Linked DNA regions of Homo sapiens: region 2 is linked to region 1. The links come from fine-mapping of genetic effects on gene expression. Tissue or cell type: esophagus mucosa. Region 1 holds a variant in brackets; the other region holds the start of a gene. All regions are shown on one strand. Distances are from middle to middle. Region 1 has its middle 54 kb from the start of NEO1. Region 2 holds the start of NEO1 (neogenin 1).

The links. PIP is the estimated chance that this variant, and not a neighbour inherited with it, causes the effect.
Region 2: it holds the start of NEO1, and the variant in region 1 is fine-mapped to the expression of NEO1 in esophagus mucosa (GTEx, PIP 0.97).

Annotation. Positions count from the first base shown.
Region 1 is chr15:72,996,967-72,999,870 of GRCh38, reverse strand. No RefSeq gene overlaps it. Among named protein-coding and RNA genes, the nearest start is that of NEO1, 54 kb to the left of the region's middle. The variant C/T (reference allele first, on the strand shown) is at 1,511.
Region 2 is chr15:73,051,270-73,054,173 of GRCh38, reverse strand. NEO1 (neogenin 1) reads right to left here and starts at 1,711. Exons shown (of 29, transcript NM_002499.4): 1 at 1,369-1,711. The coding sequence starts at 1,498. RefSeq lists silencers at 1,392-1,771, 2,002-2,321, 2,412-2,481, 2,542-2,591.

The DNA.
Region 1 (2,904 bases):
GGGAAGGTAGGAAGCAATGAAGTCAGATCTCTCTGATGTCACAGTCCGTGCTTTCTGTACTGTAACTTCCAAGTTCAGATTTAGCAACAGGTGCTTCTAGAAGTCGTCACCCTTTTCCAAATAGCTCTTTGTTCTCCTGGTGTCCCCAGCCCCAGCTTCCACCAACAGGAGAAGACTTGAAGCATTCCCGGAACTGCTCTTGGACCTCCAGAGCTTCCTGTGTCCCACATTATCTTGCATTTTTCCTGCTAGTCATGATCTCTCTGTGCCCTTGCCCAGGCCTCACATCTAGTTAGTGTTACAACTCTTGTAGATGCCTCTTGAAAGGATGACCATCTTCTCTCAGGGTTTTTGTTTGTTTTTAGAGCCTTTTCTCCTAAGAAACCTGCTCTAGGACCGGTTCATTCCCAGTTCAAGTGGTACCGTCTATATCAAAATCCAAGCTGTCCTTTCCTGCCTGGAATCCCAGGTATTAGAAGTCCAGGCATCTGCATTTTCCCGAGTGCCGACGTGTCTCTCGCTGACTGCTTCAGGAAACCCTCTGATGTGTTAGGAAGAAGGTTGTGCCTTCCCTCTGACCTGAGAGGCTGTATTTTGGAGGCGAGGGTCTTTCTGACGTCATCTCCTTTTTTCTGAATTATGGGTCTTGCTGCCAACCTGTGAGGGGGCAGTTTGTACAGTGAGATTTGCCTCCACACCTTTGGAATTGCCACATTCAGGCGAGCCAGCAGCCGTATTTCATCTGGCTTATCGTATTTGGGTGGTGGCTAATTCAAATATTTCTCTCCACGCCCAGCACTTCCCAGTCACCCACAGAGACAGTACATCCTTCTCTCATTTGCAGCCTACAGACTCCTTTCTGCTTGCCCAGTCTCTTTTCATATGCTGCCTCTTCTAGAATCAATAAAATTTCAAATACACTTAATCACTTAAATACCAGTTTTGTGGTGCTCTTCATCTGACTGAGGTATAGACATACGTGTATAGGCATGCAGAAGACACGCGGTACACTGGTGTTTACCCAAGTCAAGATGCTGCCATCCTGAGGCGTTTTGCACCATCTTTTTTTCCTCACCGAGTCTCTCAGTGACAGCCCAGTGACCTTTTGTCTGAAACAAGACAATATCTGTGAAGTTAACTTCCATTGCTGCACACATTTCGGCTTGTAAGCCGTAAAGGGACATCCACAAGTCCTGACTCTTTGTAGATAAATTTAACACATACATATGTATCATCCCTGGGTGTCTCAGATTAGAGGCCTTTGGAAGAACGCGGTGTTCATTTATATTCTTCTCATAGCTGGAAGCCACATTAAGCAGTTACTTTTATATTGGTGAACCTAGAGCCCTCAGGCCTGAGTTCTGTCTCCTGCTGGTCACTCCTCTGGCCAGCCTCTTCCGGGTATGAGAGCTATTTCCCAACCTGGAAGAGCTAGGAGCCCCGGGCACGAAGCATCTCAAAGAGATGGCACTGGCAGTTACAGTCCCTGCTTGAACTCTGGGAAACAAAC[C/T]GCCCACTTCCCACACTGTTGCAATTTACTACAAGTCTTAGCACGAGCAGTCCCTGTTTCAGCCTGGCACCCAAGTGTCTGGGATTTGGAAATTTATAATTGGAACTTGAAAGAGCCACCAGTACTGTCTTGGGGAAAAAAAAAAAGGTTGAAAGACTTTCTTGCAAACATTGTTACTTACACATGCCAGGTAATTTACAAGGTTAGTCCTCAAGCCTCTGTTGCCTGGGTAAGAGCAAGTAGTGTTTCTGGGGAGGACATCTGTGCCTCTCTTCAGCCTGATGTCACAGTCAGCTTTTTAATGGCTTTGATTCTCTCTGCTCTGAAAATTGCAGAGGAATACTGGAGATTCAGGTGGGAATGTTCCGCAGGTAGAAATAAATTCTGCCAACCATAGCTCGCATTCCTGTTTGCATACAAATATCCCCTAAGATTTAAAAATGTCAAAGTGAGAAGTGTAAGTCAACTGATTTCCTACCTTCTTCATTAAGGTTTAGTGTTAGAAACTGACAGGAGAAAGCTCTCAGCTGAGGTAGGTGACCCAAGCATGTTTAAATACATGCTCATATCTTTATTTTAAAATTCTAAACCTTTAATTTTAAATGTTAGATAAACTTACATTTTATATTATAAAAATGATAAGATATGACTGTAAAATTTTTGAAAAGCCTGAAGTAAAAAGAAGAGGGAAAAACCCCACTCATCCGTCTACCATCCAAAATCAAGTGTTATAATATTTTGGCATATTTTCTTCCAGGCTTTTTAAAGCTCTGGTTTTTAAGATTTTGCTTTTCATCTTAAAAACAAAACAAAAACCAAATCAACTTCTTTGCCAATATTTGCCTCACCAAATACAAAGCAAACCTTATAAGACCACTCAAAGGGGTGTGTCAAAGGAAAATACATTTTTCTTCATCACCACTGGGCTGTGTAGACAGGCCTGGGAGCCTCTTTCTCTCCCAGAACCCTTTTTAGAGAAGGGTCTGAACCTCTTCACAGCTCAGGAAGTAACCTTCCCCTCTCTCCTTCCAGAATCTAAAAATTAAGGTTTTAGAGAGTGAACACTGGCTTCCCCTTATGTAATTCCCTGTTGTTTTGGCAAACAGGTTCCATCTCCCCTCCCTTGGGACATGGCTTATCAAACATTCCCCCTGGAAGTGTTAGTTACACTTGAAGGAAGGAGTTCCAGAAATGCTACCCCAAAATATGCCACTTTGCTGTGCTGATTACTTTGAACAGAGAGCACTTGGGGAACAGCGAATGCAGGCAGAGGTTTTCCCTGAGACCCCTTATCTGCCTAAAGACGGATACTCCAAAAAAAAAACTCAATTATCATGAATCTGCTCTCTGGGAATCTTATCAACATGGGAAGATTAACTCCAATCACAGGAGAG
Region 2 (2,904 bases), 54 kb before region 1:
GCTCATCTAAGAGACAGTTGGATCAGTAACCTGCATTTCAGCACCAAAATGTGTTCTAAACCATATACGGACTGAATGTATAAGGGTACATCATGACATAAGTGATGTTTAATTTGACATTAAAACACTATTGTTTACGTAGCTGTTTAGAGAATACCGAGTGGTACTTTACGTTTAAAGCTGTTCTTTAACATTGGCAAAAGCCATGAGCTACATACACACTCTGCAAGGAAATGAAAAGTTTATCAGTCAAGTTACCTTGCAGTGTGATTTTAAATATTATTTCATATAAATCAGGGAAAAACAAGTACTGGTTCAGCGGTAAGACTGCTTTCAAATGTAAAAATATCATATCTCACACGAGTGAAAGTTTTGTCAAGTTTTATGGTACACCACCTTGGTCAAATAATTTTAACAGATTACATGCTAATTTGCCTTTCAACTGCTGAGTGTATCCTGCTCAACAATACCGTAAGGTCCTTCCCGGAAGGCTTGGCATTTTTGTTCGTTGGTCCCCTTAATAGGAATGCAGGTGGTTTCAGTAATCTATAATATTCCAAAAAAGAACTGAAAATGGCTTTTGAGGTTCAATGTTTATACAATGCCATCTGAAAACATTGTACAAGTACCTAAAATCTGATGCTTAGACAATTCCCTTGGTTAAGAGTGGTTAATAGGCTGTAAATATAGTTGTAATCCCCAGGAAAGAAGAGGCATTTCATAACGGAAACACTAACAGATACGATCACTCCGAGCCGCTCTCCAAGGCGTCCTCATCGTTAAATCAACACCAGGGGTTGTGAGCGGGCAATTGTGCCCCTCTGACACCCCCGCTCTTCCGCAGACTCGGGCTCCAATCCCCGCGCGAGGAGTCCCTCGAGACTAGCCAGCTCTTCCTCGAGACTTCGGAAGCTGGGAAATCCCTGGCCAGGGAACCAGGAGCTCAAGCCCCCTCCCCTTTCCTTTCCTGAAAATTAATGAATTGGCCGTCTGATTGTTTATTTAATGAGGTGTGTAGTGGCCTCTACTGGTGCTAGTGTGAGCACAAGAATGTCCCACTCTTACAAGTGGGATGAGCCTGGGGGAGGGGAGAGAGGCGAGGGGTGAACCTGCCTCCAGGTACAAAGCTGGGAACTAGACCCCTGCGCCCCCGACCTGCCCCCCGGCAGCCGCCCCTTCCCCGGTGGCGCCCCCTCTCGCCCTTCTCCTCCCCACCACGCGCGATCCCCTTTCTCTTCGGCAACCGGAGCCGAGGCAGAGAAGTTCCTGCACGTTTCCTCCTGGATCCTAAACAAAAACACCGCAGCCGCGGCCGCCTGAGCCGGTGCCGCGCCCCCGCGAACCCCCGGGCCCGCGCCCGCCGCTTACCTGGGGACTGCGGCGCGGAGCCGCTCCTGGCGGCCGCGGCGCCCGGCGCCCGGCGCCCGAGCAGCAGCAGGCAGTAGAGCCAGAAGGAGGGGGTGCTGAGGAGTCGCCGGGCTCCCCGCTCCGCCGCCATCTCTTCCCCGAGAGTGAGCGGCAGCGGCGGCGACAGCGCCGCGGAGCCCTTGCCTCCTTCCCTCCCGCGCGCCTCAGCCGGTCCCTCGCTGCAAGCTCGGCTCCCGCGGCCGCCGCTGCTCCAGCCCAGCCCGGCCCGGCCCGGCCCGCGCAGCCCCTCTCGCTGGAGGGGAGACTCCAGGGCGCCTCCCTCCTGCAAGGGGGCGGGGAGGGGAGGAGAGCGAAGAAGGGGAGTCAGTACATTCCGGGGCGGGGGGGGGGGGGCGGTGGGTCGGTCTCCAGGTTCCAGGCGCCGCCACCCGCCGCCGACTCCGGCTCCACACACCAGCGCGAGGGGGGCGGAGACCGCGGACGGCGGGGGCGGGGGCGGGGGCGGGGGGCGGGAGTCCCGGGCGCGCACACGCGCACGCGCGCGCCTCGCCCGCACCCCCTCGGCTCCGCGCGCGGCCCGCCCCCGCTCCAATCCCGGCTGCCGCCTCTCGGGCCGTGGCGGGCCCGCTCCCCTCCCCCTTCTCCCCGGAGCCGCTGACGGGTGCGGGGCGCGCGCGCCGGGCGCTGCTGCTGGCGTCAGGGAAACCCCGGAGAAGCGGATCCTCCTGCTCCTCCCGCCCGCTCGCCGCAGCCCCTCGGCTCCGCGCGCCCCCGCCTCCTCCTCCTCGCCTCGGGGACAAATTCCCCCCTCACCTCCCCAGATGCCTCTGGCTGCAGAGACCTGAGGGCGAGAGGCGCTCCGAGCTCAGGCTGGTCCGGGAGGCCGGCGTGGGCGCGCACCTCTGCACAGTCCGGGCCTGGAGCCTCTATATAGGGCCTCAGAGGAAACCGAAAGGCCTCCGGGAGGAAACCTGGGTGCGCAGTGGGTCGGCCCGGGGATTTATGTGCTCGCCAAAAACAATAGCGATCCCGCCCGACTCTTGCTGGGCCCTGGCGCGGCTCCCGTGGGAGGGGGCCGGCCGCGCAGCCGCTGACCTCCGGCTCCCAAGCCGGGCCGCCGTCGCCGCGCGCTTCCCCCGGGCAGCGCCGGGACCCGCCCGAACCGCGCCCCCACCCGCATCGCTCGGCCCGGGTCCAGGGAACTAGGCACAGACAAAGGTGCCCGCTGTCCACTTCCTCAGCTCGTGCGGGGGCCCCGACCGAGCCCTGGGACTCCCCGGGGCCAGTCTTCTCGCAGTAACTGCTACGTTTTACCTGTACCTTTGCGGGACACTTGGCGTTTTCCTACCTGGGAATCACGTCTTTCGCTGATAAACCAAGGAGCAAGTGGGATATGATTTTAAACCACTTAGTAATCGTGAGGCAGCACCCAGGCTACACAAAGTTAGGAGAAAGCAGTTTGTAGTTCCACTGCTGATGAGACTATTGATCATTTTATATACTGCACCCATGAAAAATTTTTAAAGAAAATTTATT